Linked DNA regions of Homo sapiens. The protein of the gene in region 1 interacts with the protein of each later gene in a pairwise test. Each region holds a gene or a part of one and is shown in the gene's direction. Other genes may lie near its edges. The genes, in order: SPA17 and MYL6B.

Evidence for each region.
Region 2: the proteins of SPA17 (region 1) and MYL6B interact in binary tests that used the Homo sapiens proteins (3 or more experiments, as listed by UniProt).

What each region holds. Positions count from the first base shown.
Region 1 is NC_000011.10:124,680,113-124,683,930, forward strand, and holds part of SPA17 (sperm surface protein Sp17), read left to right. Parts: intron 1-1,276; coding exon 1,277-1,347; intron 1,348-3,818. UniProt on the Homo sapiens protein: Sperm surface zona pellucida binding protein. Helps to bind spermatozoa to the zona pellucida with high affinity. Might function in binding zona pellucida and carbohydrates.
Region 2 is NC_000012.12:56,151,075-56,155,523, forward strand, and holds the start of MYL6B (myosin light chain 6B), read left to right. Parts: upstream 1-1,557; intron 1,558-2,054; exon of another isoform or gene 2,055-2,734; coding exon of another isoform or gene 2,735-2,769; exon of another isoform or gene 2,770-2,798; 5' UTR 2,799-2,844; coding exon 2,845-3,018; intron 3,019-3,738; coding exon 3,739-3,766; intron 3,767-3,980; coding exon 3,981-4,124; intron 4,125-4,344; coding exon 4,345-4,449. Other genes in the region: uncharacterized protein LOC124902942, read left to right, coding at 920-973, 1,332-1,557, 2,735-2,769. UniProt on the Homo sapiens protein: Regulatory light chain of myosin. Does not bind calcium.

The sequences.
Region 1 (3,818 bases):
TCCAGAAAATAAAGAAGTATTGATCAAATTAGAGCATTACCATTTCACAACCCCTAAGGAAATGATCTAAGCAAGGATCATCAGGGGGCCGATAAAAATTATAAAAAGAGTAACCAGATATTATAAATTTTATGACAGAATTACACAGCACTACCAATCAAGTATACTTGCAGAAAAAAAATCAAACCGTCAAACCCGAATTAGATCAAACCTATACAGCTAGCTACCAGTTTACAGGAAATTCAAAGGCTGAAGAACTTGTTAAAAGCCACCATGGGGATAGTCAGAAACATCTGAACTGTGAAAAACTCCAAAGGGAAAATGACGTAATTTCATCAACAGATAAATTGCAAGGAAAGAATAGGGGCTGGGGGCTCTTCCTTTAAAAGAAATTTAAAAGACATACAAAGAGCTGTGTGTGCCCGTTTTCGGGGTCCTGATTTGAACCAACAAATAAATAGACAATGGAAGAAATTTGGATAGTTGACTGAATAGTTGAGGATATTGAGGAATTATTAATATTTTTAGTATTTTGAAGTATGATAATGGTGGTGTGGTTATATTTTAAAAGAGTATATATTGAGATACATTCTGAAATAAATAATTGTAGATAAAATAACAGGATGCAAGGGGTTGGGTTAAAAATAATCAGAAAAAAGTGCAGAAAAATAATCAGAAGAAAAGGTTATAAATAAAATAAATCATGGGTTGATCATTGAATCTAGACAGTATGCTCATGGGAGTTTGTTATCATATCTACTTTTTAAGTATTGAAATTTTTATAATATAAAGTTAAAGAAAAAAATTGTTTAAAAATAAATACCTCTGCTTGTCTGTGTCAACTGTCTACATAATATACTTCATTAAAAAAAATTTCTCCCATCTTTCACTTTTCCAGACTTTCTGACAACTTAGCATTTAGGTTTATACATTTTTCTGTGTTTACTAATACATGTTCTAAGTGTCTACATTTATATTTAAGTACTGGCATTTGTTCTTTTTCCCATTTTATTATAAATTTTATGAAGGCAGAAATTACGTTTTTAGTGCTTTTCTAAATATCCCCAAAGGCTCATCCAATGTTCAGTTGGTTATCATATGTTTAATAATCACTGGTAATGTCTGCAGTGCTACGCTATGCACAATGTCAATAAGATTTTGGACTGCCAGTAAAGAACCTGTAATTTGAAACAAGAAACTTACATTTGTGTCACTATTCTACATTTACCTTAATGAATTCAAATAAATCTGAAGTTCTTATATTTTTATTATTTAGAAACCAACTTTGATCCAGCAGAATGGGGGAGTAAGGTAGAAGACCGCTTCTATAACAATCATGCATTCGAGGTATGGTCCTTTGAAGCTGTTGGATTTGGCTATTTCTTCTCTCTGTCTACAGCTAGCAATTATTAGGCTATCCCCAGAATTGTGAGAATTATGTGAGGAGGCATCACAAATAACTTATTAAATCTTATTAAATTAAAATTTAATAAATCTTATTTTATTAAAAAGATTATTTATTAAAAAGATTTAATAAAAACTTATTAAATCTTATTAAAACTTATTAAATTAAAATTGTGCTGGGATTTTTTGCTGAGAATATTTTTCTAAAGTATCTGAGTCATGTACAGATATTTCACTTAAGTTTAATGATGAACAACAGGAAGAAGGTGCTTAAAAGTTATGAATAATTATTTCATCATTTATTCTTCAAATGTTTTCAGCATCACAGTGCTAAGCAATAGCAGGTACTCCACAAATAATTACTGAATTAATAGATGATATTTCGTAGACCAAAACACTATTAGTCCAATTATTTCATTATCATCGATATGATATTATTGATACAAAAGACCGGTTAGAATTAAAGGTGGTAATGGTGTAGTTTTCTCTATAAAGCTAGCTTTTTCAGAGTCTGAGCCTTTCTCTTTAGCAGCTTTACAAAGACAGCTTTCTCAACCAAGTTTCCTCAAAAAAATTAAGCCCTAAACCAAAGGCACTAATTGCATGTAAGGAATCAGTGTCCTGATTTGTATCTAGAATGGTTCTGGTTAGGTACCATCCTTGGGAGAATTGAGAAAAGAGCTTCTCAAAACATTCTCTGTGTTCCATGGTTCAGATAATGAATGCTGGTTGAGAAAGGCTGTGTGGAATCAGCATTATTGGCATCAACTGGAAACTTGATAGAAATTCAGAGTCTCACAGGAAACATGAAAAACAAGGAAGTATGACACCCCAGAATGAACACAACAGTTCTCCACTAATAGATCATAACCAGAATGAAATTCTTAAAGTCTCAGATAAGGAACTCAAAATACTGATTTTTAAATATGGTCAGTGAGGTGCAAGAGAAATCTGAAAACCAATACAAAGAACTCAGTGAAACAATTCAGGATATAAATGAAAAATTTTACAAGGTGATAGATTTTTATTTTTAAAAAAACCCTAACATAAATTCTGGAATTGAAGAATTTATTGAAGGAAATATAAAATACATTCAAAAGATTTAACAATAGACTAGACTAAGTGGAACAAAAAAATTTTAGAACTTGAATACAGGTCTGAAACAATCCAGTAAGACAAAAATAAAAAAGAATAAACAAAGCCTTTAAGACATTTGGGACAACATAAAGCAGCTGAATATTTGAATTATTGGTATCCGCAAGGACAAAAAGATCAGAAGGCTTAGAAAACCTATTTAATGCAATAATAGATGAAGACATCACAAGTCTAGCAAGAGATTTAAACATCCAGATATAGGCGGTGCAGTGATTCCCCAAATACAATGCAAAAAAAAAAAAAAAGTTTTCACCACAGCACATTAAAATCAAACTGTCTAAAGTCAAAGAGTGAATTCTAAAAACAGCAAGATGAGAACATCTCATCAACTGTGAGGGAAACCCGATCAGACTAATAACCGTACTTCTCAGCAGAAACCTGACAGGCCAGGAGAGAGTGGGATGATAATTCAAAGAGCTGGAAGAAAACAACTATCAGCCAGGAATTCTATATCCAGCAAAATTAACCTTCATAAATGAAAGAGAAATAAAGTATTTCCCAAACAAGCAAATGCCAAGGGCATTCGTCTGTACTAGGCTGGCCCTACAAGAAGTGTTCAAGGAAATCCTAAACTTGGAAGCAAAAAAATGGAAGTTAGCATCATGAAAACACAGGAAAGTATAAAACTCACTGTTAAAGCGACCACACAAAGGAGGAACAGAAATGAATCAAATGGGCCCACTACAGAATTCCACCAGTCCACAATGACAAACAGTAAGAGAAAAAGAAACAATGTATAAAATAACCAGAAAGCAATTAACAATAAGACAAAAGGAACAAAACTCCACATATCAATAATAACTTTAAACATATATGGATTAAATGCTCAACATAAAAGCTATAGACTGGCTGAATGGATTTCTTTAAAAAAAAAAAAAAAACATGATTCAACTATATGCTGCTAATAGGAAACTCACCTTACCTGTAAAAGCATTTAGACTGAAAGTAAAGAAGTGGAAAAAGATATTCCATGCCAACAGAAACCAAAAGCAAGCAGAAGTAGCTATAGTTACATTAGGTAAAACAGACTTTAAGTTAAAAACAGTAGAAAACAACAACAAACAAGTTTATTTTATAATGATAAAGGGATCAATTCAGTAAGAGGATATAACAATTGTAAATATATACACACCCAGCACTGGAGCAACCAGATTCATTAAAAAAAATTTCTATGTCTAAAGACAGAGGTAGACTGCAATACAATAATAGTGAGGGGCTTCAACACCCCACTCATAGCATTAGACAAATTATCTAAACAG
Region 2 (4,449 bases), on another chromosome or scaffold:
TTTTGAGTTGGAGTCTCACTCTGTCACCCAGGCTGGAGTGCAGTGGTGCGATCTCGGCTCACTGCAACCTGCCGGGTTCAAGTGATTCTCCGACCTCAGCCTCCCAAGTAACTGAGATTACAGGCGCCCGCCACCAGGCCCAGCTATTTTTTTTTTTTTTTTTTTTTTTTTTTTTTTTTGTATTTTTAGTAGTGACAGGGTTTCACCATGTTGGCCAGGCTGGTCTCGAACTCCTGACCTCAGGTGACCCACCTGCCTCGCCTCCCAAAGTGCTGGGAGGTGTGAGCCACCAAGCCCGGCCCTATTTTACCAATAATAACACTTCGAATCCTCCGAAGAGCCCTATGAGGTAGGTACCATTATCATTATTTTACAGATGAGGAACTGAGGCCCAGGAGAGATAACTAAACCTGCTGAGGGTCACTAACTAGGACCTGGTAGAACCAGGATTTAAATCTGAGTAGGCTGTCTGAACCCCATCCACTTGAGCACCCTCTGAGATAATTTAGCCCCTTCACCGGTACGAGATCTATGGCGGCCTCCAGAAATGGTTGCTAACTTACTATTATCGTTATTTCTGTCGTACAATTCATTTCTACCTTTCCAATAAACTTTCCCCAACCAGTGAACCTCACTTACTGCCCATAAAGTTCACCTGTGCCTCACCACCCTGCCATCGCCCGAGTTTTCTGCTCTGATCTAATCCTCACACGCCTGTGCAGCACCAGCTTCCAACACCAGGTGCACCGCCAGGGTATTTACTGATCCAGTGAGTGAAGGTGGGCCCGGCCGGGCTGGTTCCCATCCTCTGATCAACGCCTAGGGGAACCAGTGAACTCCAATGCTGACCATAAGAGTTTCAGAAAGTAGGGCTGGAAAGCCCAGCCCTCCGCTCAGAGACCTGTGAAGATCGAGGAGGATGGCGCATATGCTGCCGCAGGATGGAAACCTCGATCAGAGAAGGCTGGGGCAGGTGACTGGGCTTAATTGCAAATTTTAACATTTACTTCAGCAACCAGCTCATTAAAAACAAACTACTCTGAGGCCTCTTTTTTTTCTACCAAACCGCGAGAGGAAGCAAAAGAGAGTGCAGCGGTTCTCCCCGGGGCCGTTAAGTGCTTCCAGCTATCTGACCTCCACGCTGCCTGCTGCAGCCTCAATCTTTCCCCAGGTTCTGAGTTCTTTCAGCAGTAGGTCCAGGAAAACAGCCGCCCCGCCCCCTCCACCTCCCGAGACTAGGAGCCCGCCAGGGTTAAGTAGGAGGGATACCCTAGGGGCCCCGCAGGGTTTTTAGGGTTGGGGTGGATTGGAAATTGTTCATTGCCTTTCAGTTCCGGGACATAAAGCGCGCTGGAAGGACACTGAGTCACCAACCACCGCCATGGGCCGGAAGCCACCGCCCTCGCGTCAACTGCAATCTAGAGCGCGGCGCATCCCGTGAGCCCGCGGGGAACTACGACTCCCGGCATGCTCCGCGGCCACCGGAATTAACCCTTCAGGGCTGGGGGCCGCGCTATGCCCCGCCCCCTCCCCAGCCCCAGACACGGACCCCGCAGGGTGAGTTTTTGGGGGCTGAGGAGGGCCATTTTCTTTAAGATTTAGTGGGGGTGCGTGAGTGTGTGTGTGTGTGTGTGTGTCGTGTGTGTGTGATGTATTTTGTAAAAATGGGACAATTTGCAGTCATGAGATTCAGACGCTGTTTTGCGAATGGGAGACCCAGCATCAACCCCGGGGCCTAAGTGGAATCACTGCTATCTTCCTCAGAATGCTACCTAAATCCTTTCCTAATTTACCCCAGAACAAAAGTAGCCTGCAATCCCTCCCCACTCCCAAACGCCCCCCAACTTGGACTCTCTCCCAGCGCCCCTGGCAAGGTTTGTGACCTGGCCCCTGAGTCAGGATTTTTATTATACCCCTGGTTGTGGGGTGAATACTCATGGAGCCATAGGAGCGCCCACATCCTCTTGGATTAGGGAATTTAAGCCGTCTCCCAGAGCCTGCCCTTCTCCTCAGGTGCCACCAAAGGGTCCCCACAGGTTCAGCAAGCACCCTACCTTTTGTTTGTCTTGAATGACCGTGGGCTTGTGGAAGGTTTCTTCCATGGAAGAATGGGTAGCAGATGTTAAACCTGATCTTTGCCCCCACTCCTGCCCCTAAAACAACACTGGGCACAGGAGACAATGAGGGATGTCATACTCCTGTTTTTATGACTATTCTTCCTTTATACTGTGAATAGTTCCAGTTCTTGGCTGGGTGGGGGCTCAGGAACTACAAGTATTAGGGATCATTAGACTCTAAGGTTAACTACCCCTGCTCTTTACAAAGCCATGGTCAGAAGGGAGTGGAGGGGCTGGGCAGATGGGCTTCTTGTTTTTGTCATTGCTCCCAGACCACACTTTAACTTGTTCCAGTTCACACAAGCCTCCCTGGCTGCTACCCCTCACCCCACCCTTCAAGAAGACTAAAGCTGCTGGATCACCTGCTTTGCCTCACCACCCCCATCTCAGTGCCACTGGCAAGCATCCTATCCTCACCCTGGAGGTTAACTACCTCATTCTGGGCAGTCTCTGGCTTCCTCCCCTACCCCTAAAGGAAACATTGTTCTTTTCTGGTCAGCCTTTGGGGATAAGGGGACAGAGGGAAGAAGACCTTGGGGCAGGAGTCCTGAACCATAGGAGGCCAGGGGAGTGAGGGCAGGCGGTTATATCTCTCCTCTACCTCATCTTTGCCACAGCCAACTGGCTCCCTGCCCCTGCCCCCGCCCCTTGACATCCCAGACTCCCTGGCTATTTAAACAGAGATGGGTGCCCCCATCCGCACACTGTCCTTTGGCCACCGGACATCATGCCTCCCAAGAAGGATGTTCCCGTGAAGAAACCAGCAGGGCCCTCCATCTCCAAACCTGCTGCTAAGCCAGCAGCAGCAGGGGCTCCTCCAGCCAAGACCAAAGCTGAGCCAGCTGTCCCCCAGGCCCCTCAGAAAACCCAGGAGCCTCCAGTCGATCTCTCCAAAGTGGTGGTGAGTCTCTGGAAAGTGAAGATAGAATTGGAGGGGGTGGTTTGAGGGTGGGATACAGCCTAGGGGATTAGGGGGTATCTAGAAGGTAGGGAATCAGTGAGCCCTGGAATGAGATTGGGGCTTTCCCTTAGTCCCCCATTTGGAAGCATCCAGTCTTATGACTCTGCTGTTGTCTTTGCTGTTCTCTCCCTCTAACCTATAATCATGTGTGTACAGCACATACACACTCACTTACCCCCTGCTGGAGGCAGGGACTCTTAGATGGGGAACATCTGGGTTCTGAGAACAGTTTCAAGGTGAAGGGAAGAGAGCTGTTGCCTGCCCCTGGCTGGTGGTTCAATTCAAAAGGCCTGCAGCTCTGAACTCCAGGAGGGGAGGCTGAAGAGGACAGACTTGTTAGACAATCACAGCTGGGGGCCAGGGGTAAATTTAGCCTTTGTTCAGCCCCCAGTTATGTGTGGGATGCAGGGCTCAGGGCAATGGAGGGAGGGAAACAGGTGGCATGGGATTAACCCTGTTCCCAGGAAACCCTCCCCACTGTAATTCCTCTTCTTGGGATTCTCCCAAGGCCCAGAGCTGGGAATGGGACTGAGGTGGCTGGGCTTCCAGCCTGGTCCCTTTGGGCCCCTCCTCAGAAGTGGCTGCCAGTTGGTTGGGAGGAGTGCGGGAGAGGGATTGAATAAACTCTCATCTCTCCCCACCTGCTTTTTTCTTCCACAGATCGAGTTTAACAAGGACCAGCTGGAGGGTGAGGAGAAGCTCATCTAAGGCCACTGTCCCATCCCCAATCCCCTGGTCAGATTCTCTTTCTATTCCCCTAACCCCAGTCCTGACCTTGAAACCTCCCATACTAGTCCTCTTTTCCTCCCTTGTTCTGTTCACATAGTTTCTGAAATTCCCTTCTGTCTGGGGGTGATGGGAACCCTAGTCAGTGTCTACACTGACCCTTCCTTATACTTTAGAGTTCAAGGAGGCCTTCGAGCTGTTTGACCGAGTGGGGGATGGCAAGATCCTGTACAGCCAGTGTGGGGACGTGATGAGGGCCCTGGGCCAGAACCCCACCAACGCCGAGGTGCTCAAGGTCCTGGGGAACCCCAAGAGTGATGGTGAGGGGACCCTTGGGAACAATTTGGGTTTTTAGTTTTCAAAAGTTGGATGTTGGTAACAAAAAGAATGAGGTGGATCTCAGGACTTCAAAAACTGTCAAACACAGAAGCAGGAAAATATCCTAAATGCTGAATAGGATGAAAGCATTGTGGTAGGGTTGGGAGCTGGGTCCTATGTAATACTACAATGACCTCTCCTTTACCTCTCTCCAACCTCCAGAGCTGAAGTCGCGGCGTGTGGACTTTGAGACTTTCCTGCCCATGCTCCAGGCAGTGGCCAAGAACCGAGGCCAAGGCACATATGAGGACTACTTGGAGGGGTTTC